Linked DNA regions of Homo sapiens: region 2 is linked to region 1. The links come from fine-mapping of genetic effects on gene expression. Tissue or cell type: whole blood. Region 1 holds a variant in brackets; the other region holds the start of a gene. All regions are shown on one strand. Distances are from middle to middle. Region 1 has its middle 23 kb from the start of RALY. Region 2 holds the start of RALY-AS1 (RALY antisense RNA 1).

Region 1 (15,181 bases):
TGCAATAGTGTGTGTTTTTTCTTTGTTTATTTGTTTTTGAGACAGAGTCTCGCTCTATTGCCTCAGCCCCCCAAGTAGCTGAGATTACAGGTGTGTGCCACCATGCCCTGCTAATTTTTTGTATTTTTAGTAGAAACAAGGTTTCACCATGTTGCCCAGGCTGGTCTTGAGCTCCTGAGCTCAGGCAATCTGCCCGCTTCAGCCTCCCAAAGTGCTGGGATTACAGGTGTGAGCCACCGCGCCCGGCCTGGTTCCTGTTTTCGTAAGGAGATTGGAATGAGATGCAAATAAACAGAGAAGTGATTATATCTAAGAAATACAAACAAGTCTGTCTGCTGCCCTCACTACATGGACATAGACCCACCAGGCAATTCCACCTGCTGCTTCAACTCATATTATTCCCAGTCATTTACCTTCTGGCTGGCAACCTTCTCCTCCTTACCTACTTTTAATGCTCCTACCCCCATTCTGTTCTCTCTGCCTTCTTCGCAGGGGCAAAAGATAAATTCCTCCCATTTTCTCATGGAAAGCTCTTAATCATCTCTTCTGTTACTAGGGGCCTGGTGCTCCTGCCTCCAGTTTGTGGTTCCTCAAACACAGTTCCTTCTTGTATCAGTTAAGGATTGCAACATAGCAAGCCCACCCCAAAACTTAACTGTCTTAAAACAGTACTACTTATTAGCTCTTGAATCTCTGGGTCAGCAGTTTCGCCTGGACTCAGCTAGGTATTATTTCTGGTCTTGGCTAGGTTCATTCAGGCACTGTCGTTAGCCAGGTGGCTCTGCTTCAGGGATTGGTTGACTGTCAGCTGGGGCAACAGCAGTGACTTGACCACTCGTCTCTCCTGCTCCTGCAGGATAGCCAGGGCCTGTTCTCACAGTAGCAGCAGGACTCCAAGAGTGACAGAAGAAGCATGCAAGGCTTCTGGAGGTTCAGGCTCAGAACTGGCACAATGTCACCTCTGCCTCATTCTATTGACCAAAGCAAGTCACAGGCCAGCTTAGATTCAAGATGTCAAAAAATAAACTCCATCTCTTGATTGGAGAAGCTGCAAAGTCACATTCTAAGGGGCCCGGAAACAAGGAGGAGGGGAGGACTGTGGGTTGGATTCTCTGGGAAGCCAACTCTGAGATAGAGATTAACATGCAGGAAGTTACTCAGGGAGTGCTCTTGGGATCAACACCGGTGGAAGAGCAGAGAAGGAAGCAGGATGGAGCAGAGGGAGAAATTGAAGTGCAATGTCAGAACAAAGGCTTCCACTGACCTCATGGAGACCTCTAAAACTGGAATAGGTCTTCCAAGTTGTCCTGAGTAGAGGCAAGGGGACCAGGCCTCTAAGCTCCCAAGCTGATCAATCATTTATGCAGACTGCCCTGAAAAGGCAGCTGCCAAGGAAATTCCCAAAGAGGGCTTAGAGCCAAGGATCATCTGCCAACACTTTTCCCAGTAGCAGGTGGAATAAATCCTTCATTCCTCAGTGGGGGAGGAGGGTTGCCTGTGCCGAACATCACAGTCCACTCCACTGCCACCTCTCCCTAAGAATGCTAATGCTCATGATAAAACGCTTGTCACTTGCTGTATATGTATACGTTAAATATTTATAATCACTTATTAAATGCATCGCCTAACTTGTACAGATTTTAGATGATCACAATGCTAAATGTCACTCCTTTGAACTTAGTCTTCATAGTTTCATTGCTCATTTATCTAGGTCATCCACTCAAAACTTTAAGGATGAGGAGAAACAGCTTCTCCCATCAGAAATCTAGGCAAGAGGCGCTCACTGGCTCCCAACCAGCGGGAGGGTCGTCGTGTGCCTGCGCCTGGGTTGGGGGAGCCTTCGCGCCTAGGCCTTTCCCTCAATTTTTCCTCTTTCCCCCTCGCCCCGCACTGGGGCTTCCTGGTCGGCGCTTGCACAGGGAACTCAGTGCTGAGATTGTCTCAAGCCCCAGGAAAAATGGTGGAAAATTCACTGTCACCATTGCCAGAAAGACCGATTTATGGCCTTCTGCTTCTCTTAAGCTCCCAATTTGGCTTCATACTTTACCTCGTGTAGGCTTCTATTCCTGAATCTTGGCTAAACTCCTTAGGTTTAACCTATTGGCCTCAAAAATATTGGACAGTTGCATTACCTCTCTACTTCCTTATTACTATAGTAATTGGCTATGTGCTCTTGTTTGTACCCCATTCACTCGACTCCATTCGTACAATCACAGATAACTATGCTAAAAATCAACAGCAGAAGAAATACTAAGAGGAGGCCATTCCAGCATTAAGAGCTATTTCTATTTAGTGAAGTAAACCAAATTTTCTTTCTTGTAGCCAAAGACCTTTACACCAAAAACTGAAATGTACCTGGCCATACTAATGAGAGGTGAAGCTGGCTGGGCTTCTGGGTCGGGTGGGGACTTGGAGAACTTTTCTGCACTGACGGGGAGTGTCTGCAGCTTCATTCCTGAAGTCAGCGAGACCACCAGCCGACCGGAAAGAAGAAACAACTCCCGATGTGCCACCTTTATGAACTATAACACTCACTGTGAAGGTCTGCGGCTTCACTCCTAAAGTCAGCGAGATCACAAACCCACGGGAAGGAAGAAACTCTGGACACATCTGAACATCTGAAGGAACAAACTCCAGACATACCGTCTTTAAGAACTGTAACCCTCACCGCGAAGGTCCGCGGCTTCATTCTTAAAGTCAGCGAGACCAAGAACCCGCTGGAGGGAATAAATTCCGGACACACTAACACCAAGCATTTATTTATTTATAAGTTTTTGCCATCGTAATTTTGACCATAAATTAATTCAACCATCTCTCTTATTAATAGAGGAGATGTAAAAATTGTAAATTGATCTTCTCTTAGATTATGTTCAATGAATATTGTAAGTGTTCTCATGTATTGTTAATGAACAGAATAAAATACAGCATTACCATTAAAAAAAAAATAAGTCTAGGCAAGAACCATTTCAAGCCATGCTGGCAACAGAGTCACCAGACTGCAGTTAAGGTAGAGACACGATGTTCTTTGTAGTTCTTTGTAGAGAGAAGGACTAAGATCTGGGTCATGGAGAGATGATCACTCAACAGGGAATGCGGGAAGCTAGAGTAAAATTTGGCTGGCAGACCAAGTCGTGAGAGGAAAAAGAGACCAAATGAGGCTTTGAAAGATAAATAAACAGGCCGGGCGTGGTGGCTCACACCTGTAATCCCAGCGTTTTGGGAGGCCGAGGTGGGCAGATCGCCTGAGGTCAGGAGTTCGAGACCAGCTTGGCCAACAGGGTGAAACCCCGCCTCTACTAAAAATACAAAAAAATTAGCCAGGTGTGGTGGCAGGCGCCTGTAATCCCAGCTACTCAGGAGGCTGAGGCAGGAGAATCACTTGAACCTGGGAGTCGGAGGTTGCAATGAGCCGAGATCGCACCATTGCACTCCAGCCTGAGCAATGAGTGAGACTCTGTCTCGAAAGAGAGAGAGAGAGAAAGAAAGAAACAACCCACCCCACGAGGGCAGCTCTTGATATCTGGGAAGACAGTTCATGCCTTACAGAGGCAAGTTGCTTGTTTGGCAAAATTCCAGGAGAGCCGTCAAATCAGAATTTGGGGACCTGGATGGAGAATTGATTTCACCTGCAACAAAGGCGACTCCCTGTGACCACATAGAAAAGACTCTGCTTTTTGGAAACCAAAGGCTGTGACCTTCACATGCAGGCTTATAGATAGGAACAAATTAACAGGTCAGGCCAAAAAGGAGGAGATGTCAGCAGTGGCCAGTTGGAAAGTTCTGGGAGAACCACAAAATGCCAGAGTCTCTCAATTAAAGTGGAAAAACCGGCTTAGAGTGATTCAATGGTAAGATCAGGATCATGCCATGGGTTGTTAGCTATTCTGTTTAGCTCTCCAGATCTACCCTTCGCCCTCTCCACCAGTGGTGCTGTGTCCCAGAGATTCACTTTAATGGAATATGTCGAAAGGATTCTTTACTCCCTGGCTTTCTATTGGGTTTGCTCAATGGGAGACACGTGCAGGATACTAGAGGATGGAAGAAGAGAGAAATGAGGGTATTTATTTACCCAGCTCCCCCGCCACTGGGGCCAAGGACTGGAACTATCATGGAAAACCGTTTTCTCAACTTCAACTCTTTCCACATTCACGGAAGCACTCCTTCTCCCTGCCTCTTTAGGCCTGGACCCATAATGTACCCCCCTCAACTGTTGCAGTCTCTGGGGTGCTTCCCCCATTCCCGTTGGCTTCCCTTAACGATTGTTACAACTTTATAAATACTTTCCTGGCCAGGTGGGGTGGCTCACACCTGTAATCCCAGAACTTTGGGAGGGTGAAGCAGGAGGATCGCTTGAGTCTGGGAGGTCAAGGCTGCAGTGAGCTGTGATCACACCACTGCACTCCAGCCTGGAAAACAGACTGAGACCTTGTCTCAAAAAAATAAATAAATATTTTCCTTGATCACTGCACTTGAGTGCTATCTCTTTTTTGATGCAATTCTAAATGCTAATCACTTGAGCTAGCTTATTGAAAAGGGGACACTGTGAATTTTTATGGATAGTTGTTCCTTTTGGCTGTCCAGCCTCAGAAACACATACTCATGTCTGAAGAATTTCCCATCATATGAGTCTTGGTGGGAAGTAGAGCTCACTTCCCCACATAGAATGTGGCAGTGCTAGCTATTTGCTTTTCAGCCTCCCTTGCAGCTAAGGTTTGGGCAAGTGACCTAGGCTCAGCCAGTCAGAAGCATAAACCAAACTTTGAATGAGGAGTCGGTAATATAAAGACATAAGGACAGTGCTGGGCATAGTGGCTCATGCCTGTAATCCTAGCACTTTGGGAGGCTGAGGCAGGTGGATTTCTTGAGGCCAGGAGTTTGAGACCAGCCTGGCCAACATAGTGAAACCCCATCTCTACTAAAAAATTTAAAAAAACTAGCTAGGTGTGGTGGTGCGCACCTATAGTCCCAGCTACTTGGGAGGCTGAGGCAGGAGAATCACCTGAACCTGGGAGATGGAGGTTGCAGTGAGCCAAGATCATGCTACTGCACTCCAGCCTGGGCAACAGAGTGAGACTCTATTTTTTTATTTTTTATTTTTTAAATTTTATTTATTTATTTATTTATTTTTGAGATGGAGTGTTGCTCTGTCACCCAGGCTGGAGTGTAGTGGCACAATCTTGGCTCACTGCAACCTCTGCCTCCTGGGTTCAAGCGATTCTCCTGCCTCAGCCTCCTGAGTAGCTGGGATTATAGGTGCACACCACCATGGCTGGGTACTTTTTGTATTTTTAGTAGAGGCGAGGTTTCTCCATGTTGGCCAGGCTGGTCTTGAACTCCTGACTTCAAGTGATCCGGCCACCTCAGCCTCCCGAAGTGCTGGGATTACAGGCGTGAGCCACTGTGCCCGGCCGAGACTCTGTCTCTAAACAAAAGAAAACACAACACAATACAACAACAACAACAACAACCCAACCCAAACCAAACCAATAAAACAAAAACTTCCACTTAAATCTTAAAAAAAAAAAAAAAGAAAGACACAGGGACAGTGGAGAGGTAGTCTGGTGGTGGTGGCCATAGAAGCAGCAATATCCTGTCTCTGGGGCAGCCTGGGCAGTAGGGCCAGTGACTGTTCCTAGCATGCAGATGTGGAGCTTTAGCAGAGTCAGAGAGGCAAGTGGAAGGGTCTGGTACTCTGCACTGGAGGCAGCAGGGTCCTCACAGGCCCTGTGTTTCTGCCATTGCGGTGTCCAGGTCTGGTTCTTCAGCCTTCCCAGCAATGCCAAAAGCTCTCTGGTATCTTTTCTACTGATTCCTCTCCTGCTTAAATCTACCACAGTCAGTTTCTGTTGCTTGCATTATGAATCCCAACTTGTGGTTTGCGTGCAACCCAAATGTGGGCTACAGCTAGGCTTCACAGGGAAATAGAAAACAGGGGCCCAGGCAGCTACTCCCTCTGCCTCCCACTTTGGTGCCTCAATTTCTCTCTCTCTATCTGTCTCTTTCTCTGTCTCTCTCAATACAACTGCCACATACTTCTTTCCAGCTGTGGTTTTGTCTTAATTCATGGAAAGACATTATAGCTTACTGTTTAGGAAGCACCCACTTTGAGGTCAGAATGCCTGGATTCAAATCTCAGATGTACAGTTTACCATCCACAAGGTTTTGGTCAAGTTACTGATCCTCTTTGGGCTCTGTTTCCTCATCTGTACAATGAGGACAACAGTTTTCCTGTTTTGAGGATGAAATCACACAACGTGTGTAAAGCCCTCACCAAGCTATTAGGCCACAGGAGCCATCAGTAATTGTTGCTATTGTTATCTTCATTATCAGCATTATTATCAGCACGGTTTGGGGACTTATAGAGACTACTTAAAGCAGGCATCTTAAACTTCAAATGCCTACAGGAGCCAACAGGGATGATGAAAAGGAGCCATGTATAGAACACAGGCACACACATTTTCCATAGTCCCAAGGGAAGCTCTCCCAAGGGACTGTAAAAATTGTGCGAGTGTGTGCCTGTCTAGAGGGGGCAGCCATTTCCCAGCCACAGCCATTTATTGCCATGTGGAATGTGAGCCCGGTGATGCCAGATTTTCCACTATTTCAAGAGAGGTCAGATATCCAGCTATTTGGGGTAAGCTTGATGTTTTTCAAAAATCTAAAAAAGCACTATCCTGGCCAAAGGAAACCTTCCTGGGGCCACAGCAGGCTGCAAACGCTAATTTCTATGTTCTAATGCAAATTTCTGGATTGAGTTGAAATTGTCAGGGAGGGAAAGTGGTTAGGCCAGGTTAATTTCATTGGCTCAATCAGGTATGGCCATGGCCCACCACTCACCCAGTGGGGAATGTGGTGGACACTCTGACTGTGGGGTGTGGGCAGGAATGTAGTCATAGGCATACTTTAGAGAAGGAGGCAAGGACCAAAGGGGTGCCCCAAGAGTTGCTTTCCTATGGATGCCAGCACATTAAAAACAAACGCATCAGGAATGCAATAAGTCCCGATAAGTGCAAGGTTAAGAGTGAGGCTTGTTTATCTTGTTATTTATTTAAATAACAGTGTGTCTGGCGGTAGGGCATAACAGGACTAGCACAAAGGCTCAGATATATCCATGTGATTCCAGATTATTTCCACCCTTTCACACCTCCATCCTAGCATGTAGGCCTTTGTCCTCATACTTTTCACCTCATGGTTGCAAGATGGCTGCAATTGTGACCATCACAACTATGTTCCAGGCAGAGGGAGAGGAAATGAGAAGGAGTAACTAATGGCCCTTATGTCAGGACTTTGCAGAAATCCCCAGCATATATATATTTTTTCATCTTATTGGCCACAGCTAGTTCCCATACCCATACCTAGTGACAAAAGAAATTATGGAGGTGAGTATTTTTAGCTTGGTACATTGCAGCCCCAAAGAACATCAAGGTTTTTAAAAACCCTATTTTGGAAACAAGGAGAGAATAACCTGGAGTAGGAAATCAGCAGCCTCTGCCACCTTCTCTGAATATGCACCATGTGCCAGACCCCAGCTAAGTACTGGGATATCAGGCTAACAGTCCCAGTCTGCACAGCAGAAAGATACAGAAGTGGGCCTGGTGCAGTGGCTCACGCCTGTAATCCCAGCACTTTGGGAGGCCAAAGCAGGCAGATCACCTGAGGCCAAGAGTTTGAGACCAGCCTGTCCAACATGGCGAAACCCTGTCTTTACTAAAAATACAAAAAATTAGCCAGGCATGGTGGTATGCATCTGTAGTCCCAGCTACTTGGGAGGCTGAGGCAGGCGAATCACTTGAACCCAGGAGGCAGAGGCTATGGTGAGCCGAGATCGCACCATTGCACTCCAGCCTGGGCAACATGAGCAGAACTCTGTCTCAAAAAAAAAAAAAAAAAAAAAAAAGAGAGATACAGAAGTTGTTGTGGAACCCAACACAGCTGGGCCGGGTTCCAAAGTGAGAAAATCAGCGCTTTGGCTCCTTACAGATCTTCTAGGCCTCCCATCCTTCCTGCCCCTTCCCTGCCCCTCCTGCTGTCAGCGCAGTCCCACAAAGGGCAGAGTAGGGTGGAAACAATGTGTGATTAACACCAGTAGCAGTTTCAGGAGGCATCCAAGAGATGTTCCAGAGAGAAATATGTAACTGGCACATCTGGTTTATAATGTGTATTAATTCCTGACATGTAGTTTGAGTAATATATGTAAAGCAAAAAGTCCAAGTGTTGATTTAGGGGCCTTATTATTACTCTGTCAGCAGAATTCATGTTCTATTTGTGCAGTGCTCTGGGCCCAGCACCTCACCTAGGGCAGCAGGAAGGGGAAGGCTTTCTCATGGGTGCCAGTGGATGGTGGAGGCCCCTGCTGATGGTGATAGGGATGTGGATGAGTACTTGGAGCCCCTGGTAGGGTTGGCAGAAGCTCATCTGGCAAAGAAGATCGTGGAGCTAGACCAAGTGCCAGCTGAGGCTAGAAGCAGAGGCATCCTACCCCTCAGAGGCAGAAGTAGCTTAAAGTCTAGAAAACTGTGGGCTGTGGAGTTCAAAGCCAGCTCTGCCACTTCATTGCCATGTGACTTTGAGTAAGTTATTCCAGCTCTCTGAGCCTCAATTTCTGCTCCCATAAATGAGAACCATAATAACGCCTACCTAACAGGGCTGCTGTGAGGTTTAAATAAAAACAACAGGTGCTGAGAATTTACTATGGGTCAGCGTAGTGTTGCAAGTGTTTGACATGTATTATCTCATTGAATCCTCACAGTAATCTCATGTAGATACTATTATGATGCCCAATTTACAGTTGAAGAAATGCGGCACAGAGAGGTGAAGTAACTTGCTCAGGGTCACACAGCTAGTGACTGGCAGAGCTGGGGTTCATACCTAGACAATCTAGCCCCAGAGAACACTCACTGAGATGTTTCAACAGACAGCTATATTTTATAGTAAGCACACAGTAAAGGGTAATTCTCTAGGTCAGTGATGTCCAATGGACCTTTCTGTGATGAAAATGTTTTGTAATTCTGTGCTGTCCAATACACGAGCCACTAGCCACAGATGACTATTTAACATTTGAAATATGGCTAGCTTGACTAAGGATGTGAATTTTTAATTTAATTTAATGTTAATTAACTTAAATTTAAATAGCCAGGCTGGGCACAGAGGCTTACGCCTGTAATCCCAGCACTTTGGGATGCCAAGGCAGGTGGATCACTTGAGTCCAGGAGTTCGAGAGCAGCCTGGGCAATATGGTAAAACCCTGTCTCTACTGAAAATACAAAAATTAGCTGGGCATGTTGGCACACGCCTGTAATCCCAGCTACTTGAGAGGCTGAGGCACGAGAATCACTTGAGCCTGCGAGGCGGAGGTTGCAGTGAGCTGAGATGGTGCCACTGCATTCCAGCCTGGGTGATGGAGTGAGACCCTGTCTCAAAAAAAAAAAAAAAAGAAGAAGAAGAAGAAATAATTTTGAATATTGAACCAGCCTTGCATACCTGAACAAAATCTCACTTAGTCATGGT[G/A]TATAATTCTTTTTATCTATCGCTGGATTTGATTAGCTAATATTTTGTTGAGGACTTTTACATCCAAGTTCATGAGAGCTGTTGGTTTGTAGTGTGCCTTCTTCTTTCCACCCTTGAGAATCTTCCTAGGTTTGCTGTGTTGTGTCCAGGGATTTTTAGTTTTTAGGGAGAGGACCTGGGAGAAATGGAGCTATTCCATGTTGGTGGAACTGGAAATCCCACACATTCTTTTTTTACATATATGTACTATTATACAGATGTGCTGCAATGGATTAAACCAATTTCCTGGTTAACACTTAGATTCTTTCTAATTATTTGTCGTTGTGAACAATGCCACAATGAATAAGTTTATGCATTTGTCATTTCATACTTAAAGGTAAAGGTGCTATTGTAAATTCTCAGAAATGGAATTGTTGGGACAAAGAGCACATGTATTTTTAATTTTGATGTTTCCAAATTATCTTCTATAGGTATTGCACCAACTTATATTCCTTATTCTCCTGAGACTGCCATGCCCCCTCCACTGACTCTCTGCCGACAGATAACATGTTAGGGTCTTGCTAATCTGATAGTTTAAAAAAAGTGAAATTTATCTGAGTTTTGAGTCATAATTAGGTAGGCCTTTTCCATGCCCTCAAAATAAAGGAATTTTCCTATGTTTTCTTTTAGTGTCTTTACTTTTTTTTTTTTTTTTTTTTAGACAGAGTCTTGCTCTGTTGCCAAGGCTGGAATGCAGTGGCGTGATCTCGGCTCACTGCAACCTCCAGCTCCCGAGTTCAAGCGATTCTCCTGCCTCAGCCTCCCGAGTAGCTGGGGCTACAGGCGCGTGCCACCACGCCTGGCTAATTTTTATATTTTTGGTAGAGACGGGGTTTCACCATGTTGACCAGGCTGGTCTCGAACTCCTGACCTCAGGTGATCCGTCCGCCTCGGCCTCCCGAGGTGCGGGGATTACAGATGTGAGCCACTGTGCCCGGCCAACATCTTTACTTTTTTATTTGAATCTTTGATCCTTGTAGAAATTATCCTGAGCTGTATGTGGTGGCATGTACCTGTAGTTTCAGCTACTAAGGAGGCTGAGTCGAGAGAATTGCTTAAACCCAGGAGTTGGAATCTAGCCAGGCAGCATCACCAGAGTCCTGTCTATCTTTTAAAAATTCCCCTATCTTATCACCAGGAATTAGAGACCAAAAAAGAAAAAAAATTACCTGGTGAAGAGAGAGAGGAATAGATCTAACTTGTTGCTGTTGTTGCTTTCTATCATATGGGTACCCAGTTTTCCCGTCAACTCTCTTGAAACAGTCTATCTTATCTCCTCTGGTGTAAGATGCGACTATTATCATATACTTAATTCCTGTGTGTATTTTGGATGTATTCTAGGCTTTCTAGTCTATCCGGCTAGTTGTCTATCTATTCATACAACAACACTATACTGCTTTAATTATTATTTATAAAGATTGTATCTTTGATAGCGGTAGTCCTCTCTCATTCTTTTTCTTTTCTTATTTATTTATTTGTTTTATTGTTTCTTTTCTTTTTTTTTTTTTTTTTTTGAGACAGAGTTTCACTCTTGTTGCCCAGGCTGGAGTGCAATGGCATGATCTTGGCTCACCGCAACCTCCGAATCCCGGGTTCAAGCGATTCTCCTGCCTCAGCCTCCCGAGTAGCTGGGATTACAGGCATGAGCCACCACGCCCAGCTAATTTTGTATTTTTAGTAGAGACGGGGTTCCTCTATGTTGGTCAAGCTGGTCTCGAACTCCCGACCTCAGGTGACCCGCCCACCTCGGCCTCCCAAAGTACTGGGATTACAGGCGTGAGCCACTGCGCCTGGCCTTCTTTTTTCACTTTTTTGTAGAGATGAGAGTCTTGCTTTCTTGCCCAGGCTGCTCTTGAACTGGCCTCAAGGGATCCTCCTACTTCAGCCTCCCAATGTGCTAAGATTACAGCTGTGAGCCACCACACCCAGCCTTCTTATTTACATTTTTAAAGTTAACTGTAAAACATCCTCAAGCAGGTCCTTCAGGAGGTATTCCTGAAGAAGGCATTGTTATCATAGGAGTTGACAGCTCCATGTATGTATTGCCGCCGAAGACCTTCCAGTGGCATGAGATGTGGGTGGACCTGGAATATGATGATATTGATGATCCTGATCCTGTGTGGGCCTAGGCCAATGTGTGTGTTTGTGTCCTAGTTTTTAATTTAAAAGTTTAAAAAATAAAAACAAAAACCTTCAGAATCAAAAAAGCTTATAGAATAAGCATATAAAGAAGGAAAATAGTTTTGTGGAGCTGTACAATTTGTTTGTGTTTTAAGCTATGTATTACAAAACAGTCAATAGGTTTTTAAAATTTTTTAAGTTTATAAAGTAAAAAAGTTACAGTGAACTAAATTTATTTTTTAAGAAAAAAGATACTTTTCATACATTTAGTGCAGCCTTAGTGTCCAGTGTTTATGAAGTCGACAGTAGTGTACAGTAATGTCCTAGGCCTTCACATTCAGTCACCACTCACCCACTGATGCACTTAGAGCAACTTCAGTCTTGCAAGCTCCATTCATGGTAAATGCCCTATAGAGGTGTACAATTGTATCTTTTATACCATATTTTTACTGTACCTTTTCTATGCTTAGATATGTTTATTTATTATTTATTTATCTGGGAGACAGGGTCTTGCTCTGTCGCCCAGGCTGGAGTGCAGTGGCGCAATCTCGGCTCACTGCAACCTCCGCTTCCTGGGTTCAAGTGATTCTCTTGCCTCAGCCTTCCGAGTAGCTGGGATTACAGGTGCGTGCCACCACACCTGACTAATTTTTGTATTTTTAGTAGAGATGGTGTTTCGCCATGTTGGCCAGGCTGGTCTTGAACTCCTGACTCAGGCGATCCACCTGCCTCAGGCTCCTAAAGTGCTGGGATTACAGGCGTGAGACACTGTGCCCAGCCAACTTAGATATGTTTAATTACACACACACTTCCCATTGTGTTATAATTGCCCATAGTATTCAGTATGGTAACATGCTGTATAGGCTTGTAGCCTAGAAGCAATAGGCTATACCATATATATGTCTATGGTATAGCAATAGGGTGTGTAGTGGGTTATACCATCTAGGTTTGCATAAGTGCACTCTATGATGTTCTTTGCACAAGGATGAAATAACCTAATGAAGCATTTCTCAATATTTATCCTCACGGTTAAGTGATGTATGACTATTTATATATATATATATATATATATATATGTGTGTGTGTGTGTGTGTGTATATATGTGTATATATATACACGTATATATATATATATATATATATATGTAGAGAGAGAGAGAGGGAGGGAGGGAGAGAGAGAGAGCACATAAGGACTGTGTATAATTATATATATTTTTTCCTTATGCCATATATATTAAAAAAGAAATATATATATATATATATTTTATTACTGAGTCATCTTATCCAAGAACATGACACGTTTTCCTATTGTTCAAATCTTTCATGTCCTTTGGTAATATTTTAAACTTTTCTTCATATAAATCTCGCACCTTTATTTCCAGGTATTTTGTAAAGAAGTGTTTAAATTTCTTCACAAATTGAATCTCTGCCTCTTTTTTGTTGCTATTGCAAATGGGATATCTTCTTCCTTTGTGTCTTCTGATTGACTATTGTTTGCATACATGAAAGCAGTTGATGTTTATTAATTCTTTACCATGTTATTCCGTGGAATTCATTTATTGTTGTCAGCAGTCTCGCAATTGATTCTCTTGGTGTTTTCAGTTACATAATCTTTTCCCCCAAATACTGATAGATTTATTTCCTCTTTTCCACATCAATGCCTATAAGATGACCTAATAAGAAGAGACCTCAGTTCCCTACCCTAATAGTCTATCTGGAAAAAAGATGTCTCAACAAATTAACCATAATAAAGATACAAAGGGCAGAGTCAAGACAAGAAGCAAAGGTATCTGGAATCCCAGTCTAAGTTCATTTGCAGTGTTCTATGCAGCCTACGAGGTGAGGGCCTGCCTGCCTCACCCTTCATTACTGTTGCTTCTCAAATAGCCAGCTTAGAGCTGCTTCTCAAAACCCAACCATAATTTTTCCAGACTGGGCTGAACCAATGAAACAAAATATCTAACTAACAGGGGAGGGGAGAAGAGGAAGGGTGGAAATCATGCTGGCTTTCTTGGGTTTGCACTATGGCTTCTGGCTAAAATCTTCACACCAGAGCTTGCCTAACCTTTCCATGGTCTCAGGAATGGGAGAATCTACCAGAAAGACCCAGAACCTTTGTGCAACAGATCTATGTCCAAGATATATCACTAAATAGCACATTCTTGTTACAAAACAATGTACCAAATAGGTTTATAATAATACTTTTCAAAAAAAGTATTTTTATTTTGAATAAAAATACTTTATTTTAAATAACATTTTATTTTAAAATATTTAAATACTTTATTTTTATTTCAAAATAAAATACATTTTTTTGAAAAGTATTGCTATATGCTGGTACACACATAGAAAAAGAGATCTAGAGGAAAATTAGTTAAGATGATGTCAAAAGCAGTTATGAGCCAGGTGCAGTGGCTCACACCTGTAATCCCAGCATTTTGGGAGGCCAAAGTGGGAGGACTGCTTGAGTTCAGTAGTTTGAGACTAGCCTGGGCAATGTAGAAAGACTTTATCTCTACAAAAAAATTAAAAAAAATAACTGGGCATGGTGGTGTGTGCCTGTAATCTCAGCTACTTGGGAGGCTGATGAGGGAGAATTGCTTGAATCCAGGCAGGTGAGGCTGCAGTAAGCCCTGATCATACCACTGCACTCTAGCCTAGGTGACAGAGCAAGATCCTGTCTCAAAAGAGAAAAAAAGAAAGAAAGCAGTTATGTCTAGAGATTGTGGCTGTGAAAGATGTCTTAGTCTGTTTTCTGCTACTATAACAGAACACCACAGGCTAGGTAATCTATAAAGAACAGAAGTTTATTTGGCTCATCGTTCTGGAGGCTGGGAAGTCCAAGAACATTGCATTAGCATCTGGTGAGGGTCTTCCCATGGTGGAAGGGCAGAAGGTGGAAGCTAGTGCACAAGACAGAGAGAGGATATCGGGCTAAACTCTTTCTTTTATCAGGAGCCCACTCCCATGAAAATTAACCCACTCCCTCAAGCCCTCATGACCTAGTCACCTCTTAAAGGCCCCACTACCCAATACCATCACATTGGTAAATAAATTTCAACATGAGTTTTGGAAGGGACATTCAAACCATAGCAAGGAATATTTATTTTCCATGTTATCTGTGTCTGTAACATTAGTGTTTTTAAGTAACAACCAGGTATTGCTTTTGTCATTAAAAAAAGAAAGATAGCTCTGACACATACTAAAATGTTTATGAATGAAAAAATGTGATTTCTGAGATTTGCTTCAAAATAATGTGGGAATAAAGAAATGAGTGTAGGTAGAGACTAGCCATAAATTGATAAACACTGAAGTTGGATGATGGGCAAATGGGAATTTGATATATTATTTCCTCTGCTTTTGTATATACTTGAAATTTTCCATAATAAAAATATTTTAAAAGGAAGTAATTTTATAGACACAGATATGAAGAGAGAGCCACACTGTAGTTTTTAAAAGAAACAGCATTGTATGTATGATATTGCATCTGTGTGCAATGATACTTGTGTCTCTCTCTA
Region 2 (15,181 bases), 22 kb after region 1:
TTTCAGTTTGCTTCCCCCCTCACTGAACAGCTGGAAAGATGGGCTCAGGGAGGGAAGTGGTTTGAGTTGTCTAAGCACATACAGACAAATAATGGCCAACTTAAAGCCAGGCTATTGTCAATCCCAGTCCAGTGCTCCTATACCTCACCACTCTCTGCTGCTCTTTATAAGTTTCTTCAACTAGACAGGAGCTACTGCAGTGGGAGGTGCGGTGAAAGGAGCTCACTCAGAAGTGTATGAATGTGACAGCTCTGTCTCTGCTTGACTGGGCTGTTGCTTCCCATCTTTGGGCCTCAGCTTCCCCATCTGTAAAATGGGGCTAATAACAATCCTAATCTCTTAGATGTGGGAGAGCTCTCAGAACTCTGTGGAGCTAGGAAATGTTATTGAACATGATTGTTGTTTCGATTGCTATGTAACCCCAAAACTTTGTGATTTAAAACAATAACCATTTTATTTGTTTATGATTGTTCAATCCAGGGTGGGCTCAGTTAGGTGGTTTTTCTAGTGATCTTGCTGGTGATCACTCTTACGGTTGCATTCAGCTGGCAGGTTGGCTGATGGCGGGGCTCAGCAGAGAAGCTGGGATGGCTGGCCTGACTCTCTTCACATAATTTTAGTCTCTTCCCACCATGTGTTCTCTCCAGCAGGGTAGCCAGACTTCTTACATAGTTGTTCAGGGCTCCCACAAATGAGCATTCCAAGAGGACAAACCCCAGTATGCAGGCATTTACCAAGCCTCTGCTTGCATCACAACTGCGATATACCATTGGCCAACATTTGTCACATTGAGGGAGAAGGCAGGACTCAACTCCAGAGATGGGGCTGAAACTCTGGACCAGATTGAAGACTAGGTGAACAGGGAAGCAGTGAAAGCACCTCTCCATGAGACATACCCAGCAACACCACGTCAGTTTACCACAGTGATGGCAACACCTAAAAGTTACCACCCCTTTCCATGGCAATGGCCTGGAAGTATCATCCTTTGTCCAGAAAATTCTGAATAACCTGCCCCTTAATTTGCATGTAATTAAAAGTGGGTATAAATATGACGACAGAATTACCCCTGAGCTGCTACTCTGGGCATGCTGCCTAGGGGGTAGTCCTGTTCCACAAGGAGCAGTACCTCTGCTGCTGTTGGACACTGCTGCTCCAATAAAAGTTGCCATCTAGGCTGGGCACAGTGGCTCACACCTGTAATCCCAGCACTTTGGGAGTCTGAGGTGGGTGAATCATGAAGTCAGGAGATCGAGACCATCCTGACCAACGTGGGGAAACCCCATCTCTACTAAAATTCAAAAATTAGCTGGGCATGGTGGTGTCTGCCTGTAATCCCAGCTACTCGGGAGGCTGAGGCAGAATCATTTGAACCAGGGAGTCGGAGGTTGCAGTGAGCAGAGATCGTGCCACTGCACTCCAGCCTGATGACAGAGTAAGACTCCGTCTCAAAAAAAAAAAAAAAATGTTGGCATCTACCACCACCTGTTTGCCCTTGAATTCTTTCCTGGATGAAGTGAAGAACCTTCTCGGGCTAAGCCCCAATTCTGGGGCTTACCTGCCCTGCATCAATATGGCAAAGTCCAGAATCAATGTGGGAGGGGACTACATAAGAGTATGAATGCCAGAAGCATGGTTCACTGGAAGCCATCAAATTAACAGTCTACTGCAATTATTTTCATGGGGTCTAACTAACGGCTAGAGTAGGGAGAGTGGGCCTTCACCTGCAAGGTGAAACTGGATAGTCCCCAGGTCTCCCTACTCAGAATGTTCTCTCCTGATGAACCAGCCCAGATTTGATGTTTACCTTTACTTTGCAGCTTTGGCCCAGCATGACCAGGCTTTCAGAGTTCACATTAGATCACAGCCCACAGTGCCAATCCAAATGACTGGTATGACTGACCATGGAGAAGGACTCCATGGTGGACAGGGGGACAGAATGTCCTGATTGGCCAGGCCTGGGTCAGGTGCCATCACCAGGGCCAGGGGGAATGAAGTCAGCCCCTTCTGAACTAATAGTAATAATATTAATACTAGATGACATTTGGGGGGTGTTTACTATGTGCCAGTCACTCTTTTAAACATTTTATCTGAATTAACTCATATAACCCAAAAACTCCATGAGGTAGATACTATTCTCCACATTTCTTATATGAGGCACAGAGAGGTTAGGAATTTTTCCAGGTTCACATAGCTGGTCAATGGCAGAGCCAATATTCAAACCTAGGCAGTCAGACTTTAGTTTCCATACTCTTTATGGCCTGGACCAAGAATAGGAGTAGAGGCTCACAGAAAAATCAGATGCTGGCCAGGCACAATGGCTCATGCCTGTAATCCAAGCACTTACAGGGAGTCTGGGACGGGCAGATTGCTCGAGCTTAGGAGTTAGGGACCAGCCTGAGGAACATGGCAAAACCCTGTCTCTACAAAAAAATACAAAAATTAGCTGGGCATGGTGGCACGACCTGTGGTCCCAGCTACTCTGGAGGCTGAGGTGGGAGGATCACCTGAGCCTGGGAAGTTGAGGCTGCAGTGAGCCATGATTGCAGCACTGCACTCCATACTGGGTGACAGAGGAAGACCTTGTCTCAAAAAAAAAATTTTTTTAAGTCAGATGCTGTTAAGAATATTGGGAGATGATACAGCATAGACAAAAATGGTATCTATACCTTGCAACTGCCCACTAATAACCATAAAGACATGATGTGCCATGTAAAGCATGATCTAAGGAAAACCTTCATGTTCTTTATGCAGAAACTTGGGCTAGATGTGGTGGCTCATGCCTGTAATCCCAGCACTTTGGGAGGCTGAGGTGGGAAGACCTCTTGAGCCCAGGAGTTCAAGACCAGCCTTTGCAACATAAGGAGACCCTGTCTTTACAAAAACTTTTTTTAAAAATTAGCTGGGCATGGTGGTACATGCCTATAGTCCCAGCCACTCGGAAGGCTGAGGCAGAAGGACTGCTTAGCTCAGGAGTTCAATGCTGCAGTGAGCTATGACCGCACCACAGCACTCCAGCTTGGGTGACAGAGAGAGACTCTGTCTCAGAAAACAAACAAAAACAAACAAAAAAATTGGGTAATTGGGTATCTTCCTCTCTACTCCAGATGGGATTCTTTTAGCCTTAGGTTCCCCTTATTGGATCCAAAGTTGAGAAGCTCTTGGGTCACTTAGTCAAGAATTCCTGAGGTATAGCAAATAAGAACATCTGGGACCACATGTTACCAACATCTGGTCACAAACTCTTAAAATAATATGGAGAAGTAGATTTGGAGAAACAGATGAAGAACACGAGGGGGAATGTGCTGGGTGACACCCACAGAAATGCACCTGGGGAATCATGATTGAAGCAAGGATGATTGAAAAGTCTCTGCAAGTATGTGTGACACTTCTGAGTATTGGGGGTGGGGTGGGGGTGGAAGGCCTCATGTATCTGTTGTTTCCTGGGCACTCAATCCTTTTTGAACAAGATGCTCTAGAGATGGTTATTCTCATTAGAACAAATGTTACTGACCCAATGTCTTCCTCGTTTATATTTCTTCTAATGTGCTTCTGCTTGAGCAAGTGAGCCCTTAATGTCCATTTCAATTAACATCACTGCATCTGATCTCAGTGGTGTCACTCATGGATGCAATGAGGGGCGGAGAAAGGTCACTGGGAAGTGGGGAGAGGTGTCCCCTCTTGTTTGAAGGCTTGAAGTCACTGGTGAGGGAGGTATTGGGAGGGAAGGTGTGGAATGATTTGCTCCCTACTTAATAAAGACCATACTTTAAAGATGTCAGCCTGTCTTTTGTTTGATAAAACACTAATGTGAAGACCTAGTTGCAAGGCAGAAAGCAGGGACAAGGGCTCTGAGGGCTAAGCCAGTGAGGAACGGGAGACACACAAACTTGCATTGACTTATGAGAGCTTCCTCCATAACCTTGAGCTCCCTAGCCGTCAGTCACAGTGGGTGGGAACTGTATGCTCCAAATCTGCTATCCAGTATCCTGGGGATTCCCAGGGATGGCTCAAAGCTGGTGGTCTGACACCAACACTTCTGTGTGTGGCCTGATCTCAGCATGGAAATGGGATGGACCAGAGTTTGGGGTGGGTGTAGCAGAGCAAGCCTCAGGGAGAGGTAGACAGTCACAACCTGCCAACCCTTCCTTGCTCTTGTTTTCCATCCTTCCTTCCCTTCCTTCCTTCCTAACAAGGGAATTTGTTCCCTTTGTGCCCTTCCAGAGGGAATTTGTTCAGGAAAGAGAAAATATGGATTTATGTTCTCCAAGACACAATCCTCAGGGATGATTCTCTCTCCTTTGAGAAGTCAGAGCATTTGTTTTTTCATCATCTTTGCCATCAATAACAATCATTAGAAGAGCTTACTATTTCTTGAGCACCTTCTGTGTATCAGGGGACATTACATATATTATTTCTAGCCTTCACAGCAACCCTCAAGGTAAATGTAATTTATGCCCACTTTACAGAGGAGGAAATTGGGGCTTAGAGTGCTTGAGGAGCTTGTCCAGTAAGTGGATTGAACTGGGCCCGGTTCATTCGATTTCTGGCTCCAATGTCATCAATTACTTGCAATATATACTTGCAAGGGCCTGGCTCCTGGCTAAGACCTGCTAATGGATGCATCTGAAATAAGAAATGTCTTCTATTCAAGTTCCAGACGTCCACATCAACAAGCATCAAACACAGAGTTTAACCTGCATCGTACTGGCAGTCAAGATGCAAGGGCTGTAGTCCTGGTTCTGCAACTCTTTTGATGGGCAGCTTTCAGTGTATATGTGTGAACTCCCCTCTCCAGTAGAACTCCCCTCTCCAGTTGTCATTTCTCCATCTGTAAAATGGGCAAGTTTGACTAAATATCTCCAAGAGTCAGCTCAGTTCAATCCAATCTGACAGCACCCATGGGGCTTTCCTGTGTGACTGTGCCAGAAGGAAATAAAGATGGACAAGGCAGACCTCCATTCTCTAGGTGAGCTAAATGTGTGCTCTAATAGTTATACATAAAGAGCAACAAAGCTTGGAGAGCACGGCATCTCATTTAGACTTGGCCAGTGGCAATGTGTGTGGCACAGGAGATGAGGCAGGCTTCAGGGTGGAGGCGCCATTGGCAGTTGGGCTTGAAAAGGAAATAGAACATGTGGAGGTGGAGACAGGAGGAAGCTTTTCCCAGCCAACACCACATGGAGCAGAAGAACCACCTGGTCATTCTATAAAATTGTGAGAAGTAACAAATCATTGTTGTTTTAAGTCACTACATTTTCGGGATGATTTCTTACGTAGTAATAGATGACAGACCCCAAAGGTGGGTGTGTGATTATAGGCTTTATCCTATAAAGGTCAGAGATTGCTCATTTTTAGACCACAGCCTACAGTAATTGGCCTGCAGACATAATTCATTTGGCTTGCACAGGGTTTTTAAAAATAGTTGAGCCAACATTTAGAAATTGGGAGATTTTATATGAAAATCCAGATTTGGGGGCTCTCTTGAAGAATCCTACATCTCAGCACCTGCATTCTAGGAACAGTATGCAACACACATCCTCCAGTTCATGACAGTGCTCTCCACTCCCTATTGTCTCATGCCTAACCTTCTTTCTAGCCCCTGTAGACACCTGAGGGTTTGCTGTTGTTGTTATTTGTTTTGAGAAGGGTCTCACTCTGTTGCCTAGGCTGGATGCAGTGGTGTGAGCATGTCTCACTGTAGCCTTGGCCTCCTGGGCTCAAGTGATCCTCTGGCCTCAGCCTCCCAAGTAGCTGGAAGTACAGGCACATGCTACCATGCCAGCTAATTAAAATTTTTTTTTTTGTAGAGACAGGGTCTCACTATGTTGCCCAAGCTGGTCTCAAACTCCTGGGTTCAAGCAATCCTCCTGCCTCAGCCTCCCAGAATTCTGGGATTAAAGGAATGAGCCACTGTGCCCGGCATGACATTTGAGTTTTTGATCCATGCTGATGACATGGCAATGGGAGGCTATTGAAGGTTGTTTTTTGTTTTTCTGTTTTTGAGGCGGAGTCTCTCTCTGTGTCTCAGGCTGGAGTGCAGTGGCATGATCTCGGCTCACTGCAACCTCCACCTCCCAGGTTCAAGCGATTACCCCACCTCAGCCTCCTGAGTAGCTGGGATTACAGGTGCCTGCCACCACGCCCGGTTAATTTTTATATTTTTAGTAGAGATGGGGTTTCACCATGTTGCCCAGGCCGGTCTTGAACTCCTGACCTCAAGTAATCCCCCCCACCTCGGTCTCCCAAAGTACTGGGATTACAGGCGTGAGTTACCGCGCCCAGCCCATTGAAGGGTTTTGAGCAGAGAAGGAATGATGAGAGTTGGGCAGTAAGTAATGTATTGGTTGGGGGTAACTCTGGGGCAGGTGTAGTGAAAATCTATTATTCAATCTGCCCCAGAGCATGAACTCCATCTTTTGGGAAATGCATCTTTCTCTGACCATATGGTTCCGATGGGGCTGCCATCTCCCTGTACGTCCCACTTCCTTATTCACAGTATTGGTTAGAGAATGGCACCTGGCTTAAGTTGGGCCAGTCACAGCACCTGGTTTTCCACCCATAGATGATTGGTCTAGGGACGGGGACTTACCTATGTTGGACCAATCAAAGTTTTTCCCTAAAATTTTGTCCTTCAGACCAGAAGCAGAAATCCTCAGTCTCTCTCCGGTGGAACGGGTGAGAGTTGTGAGTGGTGAGCGCTGCTGCAGCCAGGTGCCTAGCCTTGAGGAGAAAAGCTCGCATACAGAGAGAAGAGATAAAGGACTGGGAGGAGAGTCCTGGCAACATTCAAGCCTCTGCGCTCACCACTTCAGTGCATTTTCTGAGCCTGGTTCTCCAGCCTTCCCATCAGTTCTGGGAGCTCCCCATTCCTTCCTGATAAATTCCTTTGCTGCATCTGTTAGTCTGAGTTTATTTATGTTTCGTAATTTGCAACCGAGAACACTGGTGATAACCGGGGGCTTTGAGGCAATTCCAGGAGGGCTACTTCTCACCCCCGTCAGGGAGGAGCCAAGACAGGGTTTATCCTCAAATGCAGATCCCCTGAGGTCAGGAGTTAGAGCCCAGCTTGGCCAACATGATGAAACCCCGTATCCACTGAAAATACAAAAATTAGCCGGGCATGGTGGTACACGCCTGTAATCCCAGCTACTTGGGAGGCTGAGGTACAAGAATCGCTTTGAACCCAGGAGGCAGAGGTTGCAGAGAGCCGAGATCGTGCCACTGCACTCCAGCCTAGGCGACAGAGCTAGACTCCGCCTCAAAAAACACACAAACAATGAACAGACAAATAAATGACAGAACAAGAAGACAAACTAGAGAACATCTTGAGACAAGGTGTTCAGGGAAGAGTTCTTTTGAGAAGGTGATATTAAAGCGAGTTTGGGGAAGAACGTCCCAGGCCTTGCGCTCAGGGTCGTCAACTCTTTGATTTCTCTTCCTTTTGAAGCAGGGCAGGGAGGTCATCAAACAACAGAAGGACAATTATAACTGCTGGTATGGCAAAGCCAGGACTCTGAATTCAAACTCTGCTCCATTCTCAGGAATCCCGTCTGTTAAGCAGGTTCTGGGGAAGCGATGTGAGTCATGAAATCACAGGTCGGAGGAGGCATCGAGAATATGGTCAGTTCTCAACTTTCAGGGAAATCCATAGCTGAGGAATGAAGGACAACGGGCTTCTCGTGCTCTCACTAGGAAGACTGGTTCACCGGAGGCTGGAACACTGAAAGTGAGAAATCCCGACAGGAGAAATGTGTAGGAGAGAGGACTAGCACCTGGATCAAGTTATAAAACATCTCCTGCATCTTTTTCGGAGATCACCCTTAGCGCGGCCTCTCCGCCCAGTCCCAGATTAGGCAGCGAAGAGCGACCCTCACCTTGTCTAGGTGGCACGTTCCTTAAAAGCGAAAGGACCAGGAGTTTCTTCCTGCCTCGTCTCTTCCGGATCCCTCCTGCACCGCCCACAGCCTGCAGATTTGAGCGCCATCTCCAGGCCCCGCCCACCTCAAGCACCACCCCTCAGTCCTTCCTTGGGGCACGCCTCCTTCCGGCACCCGCCCAGAGTAGCCACCCCCGGGGCCCCTCCTCCCCTCCCTGCTTCCGGGCCCGCCTCCTTCAGGCCCGCTTCCATCTTCCTCCCACTCTAAGCTTCTCTTCAGCCCCGCCTCCCTCCACCCGTGGCTCCGCCCTCTGGGCGATTCTCCATTTAGCCCCGCCCACAGCATCTCCTTTCAAGCGCTGTCCTGGTTCCCGGCTCTCCATCTCCTGCACGGCCTTCCCCACTGGTCCGGCGACCCTCTTCCCAGGGCCTCATCACCATCTTAGCTCCGCCCCTACTTCGGCTCCAAACCTGTGCAAGCTGCCCTCTTCCCGCCCCAGCCCCGCCTCCCCAAGCCGCGTCTCAGTCCCTCCTCCCTTTCAGGCCCCACCCTGGCCCCGCCTTCCTCCCGTCCCCGCCGAAGCTCTGGACCTTTCCAAAGCCAGGCTGAGAGGGTGGGGAGAGCCCATGCGCCTGGGAAGCCGGGCTGTTTCTGGGCGGGGCTGCAGACTCCTCGTGCTCGTGTCACCGTGTCCTTCCCAGGAGACAGAGAAGGAGGAGAGCCCGGAACCAGGGCCGGAGCGGCGGGCGGAGCCGAGCTGCGGGGAGCCGCTCCGGGTGCCCCCACCCCCGCGCGCCTCAGTGGTGCCGGCCGAGGGCAGGGCTCGCGGTTGCGGGGCTCGCGCCGCTGTCAGTGCGGCGGGGCGCGCGAGCGGCGCCAGCTCGGGGCAGCGGAACCCAGAGAAGCTGAGGGGGCGGTAGCGGCGGCGACGGCGACGACGACGACTCCCGCGCGTGTGCCCAGCCTCTTCCCGCCGCAGCCGCCCTTTTCCTCCCTCCCTTACGTCCCCGAGTGCGGCAGTACCGCCTCCTTCCCAGCCGCGCGGCTTCCTCCAGACCTCTCGGCGCGGGTGAGTGGGGACTGCGGGCGTCTCCTTAGGGGTGCGGGGAGGGTGTGTGCTTTGTGCCTTTCCGTTCACTCACTTCTTCCGGCAGGCCGCTGCCTATTTTTAGAAACTTATTTCTGCCCTTCGGGGAGTCCCGGGAGCCCGAGTAACTCTAGGCCCCCTCCGCCGCTCCTTTCTCCCACTCGGACCCGCCGCCCCGGGTCCCCGGCCCCAGCCCTCCGCGCCCGGTCCTGCTCCCGGCGTTCCCTGTCTGCTCTCTCCGCGGGCCAAGTCTGGGCCAGTAGTTGGCTGGGTGGGCCCGCGCCCGCTCGGAAGTTGGAGTCTTTTGTGCTCGTGCCCCGCCCCGCCCGGCGAGGGGCGGAGGGAGGGGAACGGAGGCTGCTCCGGGGAGGCCGCAGGCGGGCCCGGCCGCGGCTGCTTCCGGCTCTCCTAACCCGGACTGGGTCTACGGGCTCCCGGAGGCGCGCAGAGCTTGTCCTGCCTCGGCTCCCGCCTCTTCTGGGCTCTTTGCACGCCTTGGGCTCGGAGAGAAACAACAACGGGCCCTCGAACTGGGGCCGTATCCGCGTTTCACTCAGCCTCCTTGGCGGCCGAGTCTTAGTTTGCCTCTCGGTGACATGGGGGGAAAGAAGGAAACTCGCTTTGCGGGGTGTTCGTGGATTCAGGGAGGGAACTAATATGTGAAAGAAGTGTTTAACACCGACAGGGAACATTTAATGAGACTTCACCCAGGAACTTCCCAAGCCTTATTTCATTTAATGTTCACAACGGCCTTCTGGTTTATCCTCATTTACAAAAGCAGAAATTAAGGCGCAGAGGGGTCAAGTAATTTTCTCCAAGTCACAGTAGCCACAGAAGTGCAAAGGAGTGGTGCCAGTACCTATTATTTATTAATATTTCCTGGTGTGAGCATGTATCATCTCTTAGTGCAGAGGGTATTTTTACCTAGCCTTGGGTCACACCATTTAATTAGGGGCATAACTCTGGGTTTTCCCTGACTTCTGGGCCGTTGTCCACTATACTGTGGATGAAATCCCATTCTGGGGTTACCATAGTTCTAAAGGGAAAGGTTTGGATGAATTCCTTGCTAGTGTTGCGGCAGTTAGAAGTTGATGGATGCAGACTCCAGGTCTCAGACACAACTCAAATTCCCTGGGGTTTTGGCTCAAGGAAGCTTTGAGACTGTAAACGGTGGGATCCACCCTTTAGTTTGTGTGTGGTGTGTTCCTCCTCCCAGACCTTGCAGGTTCTCTGTGTTTAGATTTATCGATCCTAGTTTGATGGGGGTTAGGGGGAGTAGCTCAAGTCATCTGCCTTCAAACAAATATTACTCCTATTTTCAGATAAGGCCCAGAGTGGTTAAAGTGAACTAAAATTAACTTTGGCAAATGTTCCAGTTTTTCAATGTGATCCGGTTGGAGGGAGTGTCTAAAAATCAGGCAAGGGAGTTTCTGGGCCAGGTCTTGAGGAGTCTCTTGATGTTCACATTAGTTCTTTGGAGTCTGGTACGTCTGTGGTGCCTGGCCAGGATTCTGGATTTACGAGTCCTATGTGGGAGCTGAAAGGGGTCTTACCATCTGGTCCAACTTTTTCATATCTGCCTTTCCCCGCTTCCCTGTTAACTGAACCTTGGAAAGGGGAAGTAAGTTGTCTGAATTCAGACTGCCTTAGTGTCAGAGTGAGAACTAAAATTTCCAGTCTTCTTCCTCCTAATCCAGTAATATTTTTATTTCTCCCATACCTTGCCACTTCTTAAAAGGGCACGAAACCACTTATTCAGGTCTTAAGGTCAGGAATCCTGAGTAATTGGAAATCCCAAGGAAGTTTTATAGTCCCCACCCCTTTCTGTGCCTTATGGTTAGTATTAAGAGGAGGCCAGGTTTAAGCACAGGTGTACTAGTTCTCGTAAGTCACCACTTCGGTTTTATGTGTTTATGGCTTATATACTCTTCCATAACCATTATCTGATTTAATTTCTAATCCATTTCTGTGAGGTAGTTTGCAGAGCTTGGTTTATGTCTCTTTTTTTACTGTGAGGGAATGGAGACACAGCATAGCACTTGCCTTAGATGACAGAATGAGTAAGTAGTGAGGACAAGACACCTCTCTGGAGCAGAGGATTTGATTTGACATCATAAACTGAGCCACTCATTGTGGCTCTCTGAGCCTCAGTTTCCTTATCTGTAAACTCATAGGGTTGTTGTGGGGATTGTTAAGAAAATGGCTATGAAAGTGCTTTATAGTGGTAGTAATAATAGCTAAATTTATTAAGTACTTAACGTGTACCACCAGTCAATGGACTGAGGACTTTATGGACTATATTACTAATTCTTAGAGCAACCTATGAATTAAGTACTATTATTATCCCTGTTTTATAGAAGAAACAGGCTTAGAGAGGTTACATTACCTGCCTCAGGGTCATGTAACTGGTAAGTGGCCATGGCAGTATTCAGACTGCAGACAGTATAACCTTAAAGCTGGCATGCTTTTTTTAAAAAAAAAATTGTGGTAAAATATATATAACATAAAATTTACCATTTAACCGTTTCAAAGTGTACATTTATGTGACATTAAATACATTCGCATGGTTATGCAACCATCATCACTGTCCATTATCTTCCCCAACTGAAATTCTGTACCCATTAAACTAACTCCCCCTTCCCTCCTCCCTCCAGCCCCTGAAAACTATCGTTCTACTTTCTGTGAATTTGACTACTCTAGGAACCTCATGTAAGTGGAATCATGCAATATTTGTCCTTTTGTGCCTGCAAAGCTGGCACACTTAGTGTCTTCTTTAGTCTCAGAGTGCATTGTAAATGCAAAATTATTAGTCCTCACCTGCAGCAGAGATGTGGCATGCAGCTCCAGGGCAGGAACCCAGGCCTCTCTGAGTAAGACCTACTTTTCTCCCCCTTAGGTTGATGTTCTGTATCACTGAAGCCTGTTTTGAATCTCTGCTGGCCCCCCAGTATCTGCAGAAGAGACCTTATACCCTGTTTTTTTTGGAGACGGAGTCTCACTCCGTCGCCCAGGCTGGATTGCGGTGGCACGATCTTGGCTCCCTGCAACCTCAACCTCCTGGGTTCAAGGGATCTCTTGCCTCAGCCTCCCGAGTAGCTGGGACTACAGGCATGCACCATCACGCCTGGGTAATTTTTGTATTTTTAGTACAGATAGGGTTTCACCACGTTGGCCAGGCTGGCTTCGAACTCCTGAACCTCAGGTGATCCTCCTGTCTTGGCCTTCCAAAGTGCTGGGATTACAGGCATGAGCCACCACGCCAGGCTATTACACCCTTAAAATAGAACCGAGATAACTCCCCACCCTCACCTTGTTTGCACCTGCCCTTCTGACAGTCCAGGGTTTGGGGATATTGGGCTGCAGTTATCAGGAATAACAGTGCAGTGACAGCAGCTTGGATCAAAACTACTCAGAATGATTAAGTAGATCACCTTTATGAAATGTTCCCTCTTTCTTCCCCCTTTTTCCATAGAGGCACACAGGAGGGATTAGCTTTTGGGTTCTTGGAGGATGTTTATGGATACTCACTGCTTGCAGTTGGTTAAGATGGAGTTAGATGCTGCATATAGCCTTTCAAAATGCCCTTTGACCGTTTTCTGTGTTGGTCCATTTAGGGGAGTGGGCTCTTCATGTTTATGAAGATGGTTGGAATATTGTCCTGATAACAACTGGGGGTTGGGAGAGGCAGTGTCTCAGAGATGGTTAATAGGGTAACAAACACATGATCATGTGTCTGGTCATGTCACACTCTCCTTAAAAATCTGATGGCCCCAACATTGCCTGCATATTAAAGTTCAAACAAATATGACCCATGAGGTCAGTGTGTTGAATTTATTGAATAGAATCTTGTAGTTGAGGGACCTTACAGTCATTTAGACCAGCCACCTGGCTGACATTTGAGTTGGTTACTTGTTGAGATTGTCTTTCTTTGGATACCTCATTTTTGGAAAGTTTTTCATTCACTGAAGAATTAATGAGCCTCTGTTAGACCTGGTGCTACGCTTAGGGATTTGGGTTTGTATAGCGTAGTGGGAAAGATAGGCAAGGAAACAGGCAGTGTGAGAAGTGTTGTCACAGGGACAGACACCAGGAGAGCACAGAAAAATGATGCCTAACCCAGCATTGGAAGGTCAGGGAAGGCTTTTTAGGAGGAGAAGTTGGTTAAGCCTAGCCCTCAAGAGAACAGACATAAGCCAGGAAAAGAAGAGATCTGGGGAGTCAGGGAAGAGGCAGAGATAAGACTGTTCTAGGTAGAAGGAACAGTAAGTTCAGAAATGGTGATAATAGGTTAAGACCATCCCGAAAGTACGTACTGTTACTATTCCCATTCTGTAGTTGAAGGAAACGGGCCAAGAGAGCTAAACAAATTTCTCAGGATTCTTGGGTGGAGCATAATGCTTGAGGTGGGTGGATATGGCCAGACAGGAGACTTTCAAGGTAGGCAGAGCAGAGGCCAAGTCAGGAAAGGGCCTTCTTGCCTGTGTTGAGGAGTTTGGACTTCATCCGGAGGTGAGGGGGCCATGATTCAATGTGCATTTTGGAAGGATATCTCTGGCTGCCTGTTCAGGAGCGGACTGGAGAGCTAGAACACTGTGGGCAGAGAGACCAGTTAGGAGGTTGGCAAGAGGTGATGGTGTTTCAAATGAAGGTTGTGGGAGAGCGTGTGCAAGAGTGTGTGCAGAAAAAAGATGGAATTGCTGGGCGTGGTGGCTCACGTTTGTAGTCCTAGCACTTTGGGAGGCTGAGGTGGGTGGATCACCTGAGGTCAGGAGTTTGAGACTAGCCTGGCCAACGTGGTGAAACCCCGTCTCTACTAAAAATAAAAAAAAAATTAGTCGGGTGTGGTGGCAGGCACCTGTAATCCCAGCTATGTGGGAGGCTAAGGCAGGAGAATCACTTGAACCTGGGAGGTGGAGGTTGCAGTGAGCTGAGATCGAACCACTGCACTCCAGCCTGGGTGTGAGACTCCATCTCAAAAAAAAAAAAAAAAAAGGAAAGAAAAAAGGTGGAATTGAGTGATGAGACAAAGATTATTGGTGTGGAGGGTAAGGAAGGAATCGGGATGACATCTGGTTTCTACCTGGTGCAGTTTTGTAAATGGGTGCTGTTTATTGAGGTGAGGACACAGGAGAAGAAGGAGCACGTAAGGGAGGGGGTAGGGTTTCTTATGCAGGGTCTCCTTACATATGCTTTCACTTACCTCTGGTTATGGATTCTAGTTCTTTGTGTCAGGTCTGAAAGGGAGAGAGTGAGAGTATGGCACAACTGGTCATGTTCCTGGCTAAACTGGATGATGCAAACATTAGTTTAGGAAGAGAGGAGATATTCAATCCTAGACATCCGGGTGTGGCACAGCCTGGAAACTGCTTACGTTAAGCCAAGAAAAGTTTACATTTTATCCAGGCTACATCCTTTGGCACTGGTCTTTTCGTGTACTAGTGTATTCCTAAGTCCCTCTCTAAGCCGAAGCCACTTCTCTGCTTACTCTCTGCTAGGCACTGGGAAAACAAAGATAAGTAAAACGTATCCTAAGGAGCTCATGATCCAGAAGGGCAGAAGTCTCAGTAGCTTGGATACAGCGGTGGCCTGGGGAGAGGGTGGATGGGGCAGGGCAGGGTAGGACAGGATGGAGAGGGACCCGGAAGGGTTTCTATTAGGGATAGGAGTCAGGAGACCCCACTGTGTGCTCCAGTCTTTTTCTCGGGTGGCACGTGTCTAGGTTTATTCATCTGAATAATGACTAGATGACCCATAAGGTCCCTTCTAGCAATTACATTTTATGATTCTAGGTGGTGGTTTAGATAATATATCTCTAGGAGAGGTATTTCTTTCTTCTTCTCCCCCTTCTTAGTTTGGCATTGGTGAGGGGATATAGTAGGGGTGGAGATAGCAAGGTTTTCACTTGAGTGTCTTGGTCTTATTCAATTTTGGCTTCATGTCTATATAGCTGGAAGGGAGAAAATGACAGCCGTAATGTTAACCTGCTTGTCCTACAACTTCCCCCTGGGTACTGTAAGGAAATTGTGCTCAGGGTGCAGCTCACAGACCCTTAGGAATAGAGACAGAGTGCAGTGGAATAAATAGGAAGTCTTGTCACTAGCCTGAGCATCGTTTGGTCAGTGTGTGGGCTGGACTAAGGTCCTTTCTTTTTATAGCCCTGTTTCCTCATAAAATCATCTGGGGGGGTCCCTGAAATTCTATAAAGGCCCAAAGAGTG

What was found.
Region 2: it holds the start of RALY-AS1, and the variant in region 1 is fine-mapped to the expression of RALY-AS1 in whole blood (TOPMed, PIP 0.90).

Annotation. Positions count from the first base shown.
Region 1 is chr20:33,963,229-33,978,409 of GRCh38, forward strand. It overlaps the pseudogene PIGPP3. Among named protein-coding and RNA genes, the nearest start is that of RALY, 23 kb to the right of the region's middle. The variant G/A (reference allele first, on the strand shown) is at 9,508.
Region 2 is chr20:33,985,186-34,000,366 of GRCh38, forward strand. RALY-AS1 (RALY antisense RNA 1) reads right to left here and starts at 9,182. Exons shown (of 2, transcript NR_109886.1): 1 at 9,020-9,182; 2 at 7,303-7,720. RALY (RALY heterogeneous nuclear ribonucleoprotein) reads left to right here and starts at 8,726. Exons shown (of 10, transcript NM_016732.3): 1 at 8,726-8,946. RefSeq lists enhancers at 7,627-7,706, 7,643-8,169, 13,606-14,106 and silencers at 7,947-8,196, 8,367-8,476, 8,657-8,786, 8,847-8,896, 9,117-9,446.